2 separate regions of the Homo sapiens genome follow, and region 1 is linked to region 2. The links come from fine-mapping of genetic effects on gene expression. A gene starts in region 2. The other region holds a variant in brackets. All regions are shown on one strand. Distances are from middle to middle.

Region 1 (5,377 bases), 90 kb before region 2:
CGCACCATTGCACTGCAGTCTGGGCAACAAAAGCGAAACTACATCTCAAAAAAAAAAAAAAAAAATTAGCTGGGCATGGTGGTGCGTGCCTGTAGTCCCAGCTACTTCGAAGGCTGAGGCAGGAGAATCGCTTGAACCTAGAGGCAGAGGTTGCAGTGAGCTGAGATTGTGCCACTACACTCTGTCTCCAAAAAAAAAAAAAATGGATTCACAGCAGAATTCTACCAGACATTCAAAGAATTGGTACCAATCCTTTTGACACTATTCCACAAGATAACAAAGGAACTCTCCCTAATTCATTCTATGAAGCCAGCATCACCCTAATACCAAAACCAGGAAAGGACATAACCAAAAAACAAAACTATAGACCAATATCCTTGATGAACATAAATGCTAAGATCCTTAACAAAATACTAGCTAACTGAATCCAACAACATATCAAGAAGATAATCCTCCATGATCAAGTAGGTTTCATACCAGGAATGCAGGGATGGTTTAACATACACAAGTCAATAAATGTGATGTACCACATAAACAGAATTAACAACAAAAATCACATGATCATCTCAATAGATACAGAAAAAGCATTTGACAAAATCCAGCATCCCTTTATGATTAAAACTCTCAGCAAAATCAGCATATAAGGGACATACCTTAATGTAATAAAAACCATCTATGACAAACCACAGCCAACATAATACTGAATGGGGAAAAGCTGAAAGCATTCCCTCTGAGAACTGGAACAAGACAAGGATGCCCACTCTCACCACTCCTCCTCAATGTACTACTGGAAGTCCTAGCCAGAGGAATTAGACAACAGAAAGAAATAAAGGGCATCCAAATCAATAAAGAGGAAGTCAAACTGTCACTGTTTGCTGAAGACATGGTCAATTACCTTGAAAACTGTAAGGACTCCTCCAGAAAGCTCCTAGAACTGATAAAAGAATCCAGCAAAACTTTTGGATACAAGATTAATGTACACAAATCAGTAGCTCTTCTATACATCAACAGCGACCAAGCAGAGAATCAAATCAAGAACTCAACCCCTTTTACAATAGCTGCAAAAACAAACAAACAAACAAAACTTAGGAATATACCTAACAGGCTGGGTAGTGGCTCAAGCCTATAATCCCAGCACTTTGGAAGGCCGGGGCAGGTGGATCACTTGAGGTCAGGAGTTCGAGACCAGCCTGGCCAACATGGTGAAACCCCATCTCTATCAAAAATACAAAAAAATCAGTCAGGCGTGGTAGTGCACACCTGTAGTCCCAGCTACTTGGGAGGCTCAGGCAGGAGAACTGCTCAAACTCGGGAGGTGGAGGTTGCAGTGAGCCAGAGCAAGGCTCTATCTCAAAAAAGAAAGAAGAAAAAAAGAATATACCTAACAAAGGAGTCAAAAGACCTCTACAAGGAAAACTACAAAACACTGCTGAAAGAAATCATAGACAACACAAATGGAAACACATCCCATGTTCATGGACGGGTAGAATCAGTATTGTGAAAATGACCATGCTGCCAAAAGCAATGTGCAAATTCAATGCAATCCCCATCAAAATACCACGATCATTCTTCACAGAACTAGAAAAAACAATCCTAAAATTCATATGGAACCAAAAAGGAGCCCGCATAGCCAAAGCATGACTAAGCAAAAATAACAAATCTGGAGGCATCACACTAACTGATTTCAAACTATACCATAAGGCCATAGTCACCAAAACAGCATGGTACTGGTATAAAAATAGGCACACAGACCAATGGAACAGAATAGAGAACCCAGAAATAAACCCAAATACTTACAGCCAACTGATCTTCGACAAAGCAAACAAAAACATAAAGTGGGGAAAGGACACCCTTTTCAACAAATGGTGCTGGGATAATTGGCTAGCCACATGGAGGAAAAATGAAACTGGATCCTCATCTCTCACCTTATACAAAAATAAACTCAAGATGGATTAAGGACTTAAACCTAAGACCTGAAACTAACAATTCTAGAAGACAACATTGGAAAAACCCTTCTAGACATTGGCTTAGGCAAGGATTTCATGACCAAGAACCCAAAAGCAAATGCAATAAAAACAAAGATAAATAGCTGGGACATAATTAAACTAAAGAGCTTTTGCACAGCAAAAGGAATTGTCAACAGAGTCAATAGACAACAACAGAGTGGGAGAAAATCTTCACAATCTATACATCTGACAAAGGACTAATATCCAGCATCTACAACGAACTCAAATCAGTAAGAAAAAAAACAAACAAGCCCATCACAATGTGGGCTAAGGACATGAAGAGACAATTCTCAAAAGAAGA[T/C]ATACAAATGGCCAACAAACCTATGAAAAAATGCTCAACATCACTAATGATCAGGGAAATGCAAATCGAAACCACAATGTGATACCACCACACTCCTGCAAGAATGGCCATAAGTGAAGAATAAAAAAACAAGAGATGCTGGCGTGGATGTGGTAAACAGGGAACACTTCCGCACTGCTGGTGGGAATGTAAACTAGTGCAACCACTATGGAAAACAGTGTGGAGATTCCTTAAAGAATTAAAAAGCAGAACTAACATTTGATCCAGCAATCCCACTACTGGGTTATCTACCCAGAGGAAAAGTCATTATTTGAAAAAGATACTTGCACACGCATGTTTATAGCAGCACAATTCACAACTGCATAATCGTGGAACCAATCCAAATGCCCATCAATCAACAAGTGGATAAAGACACTGTGGTGGGTGTGTGTGTGTGTATATATATGTGTGTGTATATATATGTGTATATATATAATGGAATACTACACAGCCATAAAAAGAAATGAATTAACAGCATTTGCCATGACCTGGATGAGACTGGAGACTATTATTCTAAGTGAAGTAACTCAGGAATAGAAAACCAAACATCATATATTCTCACTGATATGTGGGAGCTAAGCTATGAGGACACAAAGGCATAAGAATGATACAATGGACTTTGGGGACTTGGCCGGGGGAGGGGGGGCAAGGGATTAAAAGACTACAAATATGGTGTAGTGTATACTACTCAGGTGATACGTGCACCAAAATCTCACAAATCATCACTAAAGAACTTACTCATATAACCAAATACCACCTGTACCCCAATAACTTACGGAAAAATTTTTTTTTTTTCAAAACAGCCTCGCTCTGTTACCCAGGCTGGAGTGCAGTGGCACGATCTTGGCTCACTGCAACCTCCGCCTCCCAGGTTCAAGTGATCCTCCTGCTTCAGCCCCCCAGTAGCTGGGACTACAGGCACGCACCATCATCCCCGGCTAATTTTTGTATTTTTAGTAGAGACAGGGTTTTGCCATGTTAGCCAGGCTGGTCTCAAACTCCTGACCTCAGGTAATCCACCCGCCTCGGCCTCCCAAAGTGCTGGGATTACAGGCATGAGCCACCGTTCTTGGCCAAAAAGTAAGTTTTAAAAAAAAGTCACTGCCCCCCCAAAAAAGAAAATTACAAGAAGCTACATTAGCTGGGCACTGGGTTGCATGCCCATAGTCCCAGCTAGGAGGCTTACGTGGGAACATCAGTTGAGCCCAAGAGTTTGAGTCCACCATAGGCAACATAGTGAGAACCCTATCTCTAAAAATAAATTTAAAAGTAAAACAATAATGAAACTACAGAATAAACAGTCTTTTCTCTAGAACAGCAATGCTTAAATATAATTCAAAACAGCATCAACCATGAACATATAAAACTGAATGCAAAAGTCACATAAAATTTTAAATTATAAGATTAGAATTCAAAGAAATTTTACTCTTCTAAAGCATTAATTCAGGCTTTGTTTCCAAATATCACAGGAATATTCATTTACCTTTGCTATTAAAGATATTCCAGTGGAAAAATTGGCGAAGCTCCAACCTGTGGTGACTTAGGTTATTTTCACAGTAATAAGAAAGTCTAACTCAGCAACCATTTACTGTGAATTTGTTTTTCTCTTATAGTCCCTGTGAGACTTTATGGGATAGGATGTTTTACTCTTCTTTATACCTTCCTGTGGTAGGCTGAACACTGGCCCTCAAAGATACAAAGGTCTTAATTCCTGGAATCTATGACTGTTTCATTATATGACAAAAGGGACTTTACAAAGTATGTTGAGATGGAGAGAGTATCCTTGTTTATCTGGGGGGGTCCTTAATATAATCACAAATGTCCTCATAAGAGAGGCAGAGGGAGATGTGACTACAGATGAGAAAGTGGTATGATGATAGCATGATGTCCTGTGCAGAAAAGAGCCACAAGCCAAGGAAGACAGGCAGCCACTACAAGCTGAAAAAGGTAAGGAAATGGATTTTCTTCTCACAGCCTCCAGAAGGAATTGGGCCTGCAACACTTTGACTTTAGTCCAGTGAAACTGATTTCATACTTCTGACCTCCAGAACTAAAAGACAATAAATGAGGCTGAGCATGGTGGCTCATGCCAGTAATGCCAGAACTTTGGGAGGCCAAGGTGGGAGGACTGCTTGAGCCCAGGAGTTTGAGACCCACCTGGGCAACATAGCGAGACCTCATCTCTACCAAAAAAAAAAAAAAAAAAAAGGAAGAGGTGACTCTCTTGAGTACATCTGCACTCCCCTTTCTTAAGTGTGTACTTTTCACCAAAGGAAAAAAAAAAAAGAAAGAAACAAAGGCAGAAAGAATAAATGTGTGTTATTCGAAGTCACTAAATCTGTTGTAATTTGTTACAGTAGCTATATGAACAAAATACACCCTTTTGACAGTTTGGCGATAATCTGTACATAATCTGCCCTAAAATATTGAACAGAATTAACATAAAGACCATTCCAGTTCAGATTTATCAAAATTCTCTTGTATTTTCTACCAAGTAAATGAAAATATCTTAAACACATGGAAATCACTGAAAATGTAGTTCTTTAAAGCACATAGGGAAAAAGTAAAAAAGCAGTAGCATCTTCAGTCGTATTTGCAGCTCATAGTGTCAGTTGCAGAAAAAGTAGTCATGACTTTAGTACAAAAGTACAACTCAAAAACTTCACGGGTTTGGCACAGTGGCTCGTGTGTAATCCCTGCCACTTGGGAGGCTGAGGCAGGAGGATCACTTGAGCTCAGAAGTTCGAGGCTGCAGTGAGCTAAGACTGTGCCACCGCACTCCCGTCTGGAAAAACACCCTGTATTTACAAAGTGAGAGAAAAGAACCCAAAAAGTAGTTACATGGGCTTGATCTTACTTTTGCTTTACAATAGCTACAACAATCTAAGGTAAGAATACAAACCAGGTAAGTAACATAGCTGCATTCACAGGAAAGTATTCCTGAATACTGAACAAGGAGATAAGCAGTCCATAGACGTTTCAGAGGATTTCTCACTTAAATGGTACTTGACTGCAAGTTACCACTGTTTTA
Region 2 (5,377 bases):
GTGGATCCCCTGAGGTCAGGAGTTCAAGACCAGCTTGGCCAAAACAGTGAAACCACATCTCTACTAAAAATCCTTAAAAAATTAGCTGGTGTGGTGGTAGGCGCCTGTAATCCCAGCTACTCGGGAGGCTGAGGCAGAGAATTGCTTGAACCTGGGAGGCAGAGGTTGCAGTGAGCCGAGACTGCACCACTGCACTCCAGCCTGGGCAACAGAGCGAGACTCCGTCAGGAGGCTTTCTTTCAGAACAACTAACCGAAAAATCATGCAAATTTAGAGTGAAAAAATGTAAAATAAGAAATTTAAAGCATTACAAGATTAATTTTAATGTAACTGGTCAGTTTGCACATCTGTAAAATGACAGTTTGAAACTAAGTGATTTCTAACATCCGGTCTACTTCAAAGTCTAAAATTCTATGATACGCAAATTTCTTAAACTTTGAGTTAAATATACTAGGTTGTTTAAAAACTAAATCTAAGCTTATTCTGATAATTCAAATAACCCTGAAATGTTAGAATATCAATATCCCATAAACGATTCAGCAGTACTGTTTTCAGACTTCCAGTTAGTATGTGTCCAGAACAAATAAAGAGCAAAAATAGCTATTTTCTCTTACTTTGACTGCTAATACTAATAGCATACAAAATAGCTACTCACTGAGAAGGCATCATAAAAGGCTCTATTGTTACAGAATCCTAAAAGTCTCACGAAAATAAGAGAAACATCATCAGCTAACATCACCAGGCCAAACACAGCTCATTGAAAATCTTAAATTCTGAAATATTTAGATTAAATGAAAACTTCGAGATATTTATCTGTTACGCAAAACAGGTAGCACTGCTTCACAATCTGAACATCACCGTATAGCTCCTTTGGTTAAACAGAAAAAAACTTCCCATGGTACTCTTTCCTCCTAATTCTGCCATTCTTACTATGCACAATGCGTATTTTCCATGTACTGTAAGAGAGATGCACTACACAGAAGTATCCATGGGGACGAAATTTTATCTACACTGAAATTTAATGTGGGATAAGTAAGCTTATCATAATGGAGTTTTACACAGAATGTGTATTTCTCAATGTAAAATGATTTTGTGAAGTAAAGGGGGAAAAAATAGAGGAAGTTTGTTTCCTTAGAATCTCCACAATTACGCACTTTATTCTTAAAATAAGGGACTGGTCTGCAGGATTAACAAATCTTACAGTTCAAAGACAGATAAACATTGGAAGGCCAAAAGAAGTAAGCAAAATAAAAACGATTACCATTAAAAACTCTTCCCTTGGCAGTTTTCAGAGAGGGTTAAAAAAAAAAAAAATTTTCCTGATTGTCAGGCTGACCCTGCTGTCATATTTGCCATTTTTATAAACCCACTAGTTTGATCAAGAGCCCTATCTTTAAGAATAACTTTTAAACCATGCATTTTTAGAGTTAATGAGGCAATAACACTATAGTATTACAGTTGTAGCTCAACAACTGTTAGATACTACAGATTAGTGATCCAGAAGATAATCAAACTTTATCAGCAAAGTAGCAACCACACCCCTTAAAAACAGAACTCACCCTGTGCTCCATTAACTTCCATAAAGGGAACTTCGATGAAAATCGATTACTTCATTGCTTGGAACTAGCATGTTTGTTTTGGAATTACACTAACGTTTTGTAAACACTGTCTCACGGTAAAGCTAATGACTTTACCTCTTTCTGAAACAGTTTTAGGGAAGAAGGCACCATATATTACGGTGAAACTGGGTCTTAGTTTACATAGCGATTATTTAAAAAATTCACTTCCACTGTGCATTACAAGAATTAAAGCCGTTTAAAAAACTCAACCAAAGCCCAATGACAATGTATTACTCTAGGAAAAGTGTGTCCTTTGGGTTCTAAGGCATTAAATTGGAATTTAATATTAAAATAGAATTCAACGGCTAAGTATCCAGTTTCCCCCAATCACTTAATTTTTCAAAACCCAGAAAGGGCCTGTTTGCGAGTATTGTGAAAACCTGTGGAAAGAGAGGCTTTGGAGGGGAACGGTCGAATTAAAATAAATGCAGAGAGCAAAGAGAACTCCGAGTTCTTTGAACTCCCCCAGGCTGAACAGGACGAGAAGGAACCCTACCTGCCAGCGGCCATAGGTGAGGAGGACCATAGAAATGGGGATGGCGGTGCCGGACATGGCATGGGTGGAGGGCATGCTGTACTCAGAGTTGTAGAAGACCTCCAACTTGACCACGGGCGGCGAGGCGGGCCTCGGCCAGCGGATGATGTCCTTGGTGCACTGGCCCAGGTACATGACCAGCACCCAGATGACCACGAGCCTCCGGCCCACCAGAGGGTCCAGGTTCCAGATCCAGAAGGGGAAGAACAGGATGTAGAAGAGTTCGTTGCCCAGCTCCGTGCCGAAGCAGAACAGGCAGTAGAGCGGCCAGTTGCTCACGCGGGCCAGCTGGCCCTCCTCGCCCGTCAGCGAGTTGCGGCGCAGAGCGCCCGCGCGCCGCGGCGAGGCCGGGCCCAGCTCGGCCGCCAGCCCGTTCCGCACGCCGTTGGGGGCGCCGCCGCCGTCCGGCTTGGCCGGGCACTGATTGCGGTCGCTCCCGGGAGGCTGGGGGCCTCCAGGCGCCCCTGGCTGCCGCCCTCGCAGTCGAGGGTCTCCGGCGAGAGGCGCCTCCGCTTTCTCATCCTCCCTCCGGTCTGCTGAGCGGCGCGGCGGCGCTTCCACCCCGCACAGCCGCTGGAAACGGGCCACTTTCTGCGGGTCCTGCAGACGGCCAACCAGCTGGGCCAGGCGCTGCCTCAGCGACATGATAACGGAACCCCCGGGAAGGCGGGCCGGCCTCCGGCGCAGCCCCGAACTGTCCCCGCGCTCCTGGCCAGCGGCAGCGGAACCGGCACAGCGCTCTACCCTCCGGAGTCTGCCGGGTGACGGCGCCACAGGCCGCGCGCCCCCGCCCCGCGCGCGCCGCGCCCCGCCCCGCCCAGCCCCGCCCCCACCCGGGCTCCCTGAGGGGCCGGGCCGCGCGGGTCCGCCCTGAGCGCATCCGGCCGTGGCTTGGCGCTGAGGATCGGCGGGCGGCCGCTTTGAGGTCCCGGGTAATATCCACCAGCAGGCGTCGCGGCGTACGTCTGGTGGGACGCGGCGTGTCCCCCTGCTCCACCTTCAGCCCTTCTTCTCCGCGGGCTAGTGTCGCCGGATTCCCTCAGCCAGAAGTTGACTTAAAGAGGCCACGATCCCGGTGCCAGCTTGCGCAATGCCTGTGACCAAGCAGCCGGGCATCCTGCTGGCACAGAACCAAATGGTGAATGATCAATGAAGGCGAAGCAACTACCATGAGTTCGGAATCATTCGACTCAAGTAATTAACAAGTAATTACAGAGCTGTCCCAGGCGACTGATGTTCGGAAAACCATGTGCCAATTGACCAGTGGTGACAAGACTACATGTAGATCCCAAGACAGGGCCAGGTGATATTAACAGGTGTGGTCTGCAAAAGAAAAGCCAGCCACCTACAAATTCAAAATACTGTGTCATTTATCAAATATTTTGGTATATGTTAAGGGAGCACAGGTGTTCTTAAGTGTAAAATTTCCTTTTCCTAGATTCTAATACCTAGAGGGCTTGCACAGAATAAATGTAGAGAATGAATGCAGTGTATAGATTTTTGAGTTTGGTAACGTTAATTTAGACGCTTAACTTCCGTGTCTCACAAGTTACCAACTTGACTTCTAGCTAGAGCAGTTTATAAGGTCTCTGAACTCCTCAGGTCAGGTGAATGTCTTTTATATATACCTAGAGAGAGAGAGATGAGACAGGGTCTCGCTATATTGCCCAGGCTGGTCTCCAACTCCTGGGCTGAAGTGATTCTCCTGCCTTGGCCTCTCAAAGTGCTGTGTTTACAGGCGTGAGCCACCACACCCGCCATGATCAGGTGAATGTCTGTAATTAAAGAATGTGAACTACTTCCAAGAAACAGGCTTGAAATTGTCCCATGCCCTTAAAACAGTAGAAATACTTTCCTTCAGGCGTGGTAGTTCATGCCTATAATCTCAGCACTTTGGGAGGTCGAGGAGGGAGGATGGCTTGAGTCCAGGAGTTTGACAACAGCCTGGGCAACATAGGGAGATCCCACCTCTACAAAAAATGAACAAAATTAGCCGGGCAGGGCTGGGCACAGTGGCTCACGCCTGTAACCCCAACACTTTGGGAGGCCAAGGCGGGCGGATCACCTGAGGTCGGGAGTTCAAGACCGGCCTGACCCACATGGAGAAACCCCGTCTCCACTAAAAATACAAAATTAGCCGGGCGGGGTGGTGCATGCCTGTAATCCCAGCTACTCGGAGGCTGAGGCAGGAGAATTGCTTGAACCAGGGAGGCAGAGGTTGCGGTGAGCCGAGATCGCGCCATTGCACTCCAGCCTGGGCAACAAGAGTGAAACTCTGTCTCAAAAAAAAAAAAAGAAAATTAACCGGGCATGGTGGCCCACACCTGTAGTCCCAGATAACTGGGGGACTGAGGCGGGAGGATTATTTAAGCCCGGGAGGTCAAGGCTGCGGTGAGCCCTGATTGTGCCATTGCAATTCCAGCCTGGGTAACAGAGTAAGACCCTATCTTAAAAAAAAAAAAAAAAAAAAAATTTCATTTCGCAGGGACAGGTACTCTCCTCCTCCCACTCCACTTGCTAGGCTGTGGCCATAGAAAGAGGAATAAATCATCACCCATGCTCTCAAGTTGTTCACAGTTTAGGGGAGATAAAGAAAGACAGGACTACTTCTAGAGTATAGAGAAGATGGCAAGTGTAAAACAGACATAAACAGCATGCCTCAGAAAGGAGGACAAGTTTGACTAGGAACAGGAAGAAAGGTGTTAGGAGGTGATCCTGTAGAGCTGGATTGTTTTACAGAGCAAAATATGAATAGGTGAAGAAGCCCATTTTAGGAAGAGAAAGTGAAGGAAGATAGGGATATGCAAAAATGTATTTGGTAAACAATAGTCCATAGAGACCAGGTGCAGTGGCTCACTCCTTTGATCCCAGCACTTTGGGAAGCTGAGGTGGGAGGATCACTTGAGGTCAGTAGTTTGACACCAGCCTAGGCAACATGGCAAGACCCTGACTCTACAAAAATATTTTCTAAAAAATTAGGTGGGGGGCTGGTGCAGTGGCTCATGCCTGTAATCCCAGCACTTTGGGAGGCCAAGGCTGGTGGATCACTTGAGGTCAGGAGTTTGAGACCAGCCTGGCCAACATGGTGAAACCCCATCTCTACTGAAAATACAAAAATTAGCCAGGCATGGTGGCAGGTGCCTGTAATCCCAGCTACACGGGAGGCTGAGGCAGGAGAATGGCTTGAACCTGGGAGGTGGCAGTTGCAGTGAGCCAACATTGT

What was found. PIP is the estimated chance that this variant, and not a neighbour inherited with it, causes the effect.
Region 1: its variant is fine-mapped to the expression of SGPP1 in whole blood (INTERVAL, PIP above 0.99).

Annotation. Positions count from the first base shown.
Region 1 is chr14:63,634,824-63,640,200 of GRCh38, forward strand. The region is part of intron 1 of WDR89 (WD repeat domain 89); the gene reads right to left. Among named protein-coding and RNA genes, the nearest start is that of WDR89, 4.4 kb to the right of the region's middle. The variant T/C (reference allele first, on the strand shown) is at 2,308.
Region 2 is chr14:63,725,146-63,730,522 of GRCh38, forward strand. It overlaps SGPP1 (sphingosine-1-phosphate phosphatase 1), which reads right to left and starts at 2,920. Exons shown (of 3, transcript NM_030791.4): 1 at 2,116-2,920. The coding sequence starts at 2,799. RefSeq lists enhancers at 2,066-2,567, 2,212-2,261, 3,222-3,411 and silencers at 2,522-2,621, 2,912-3,011.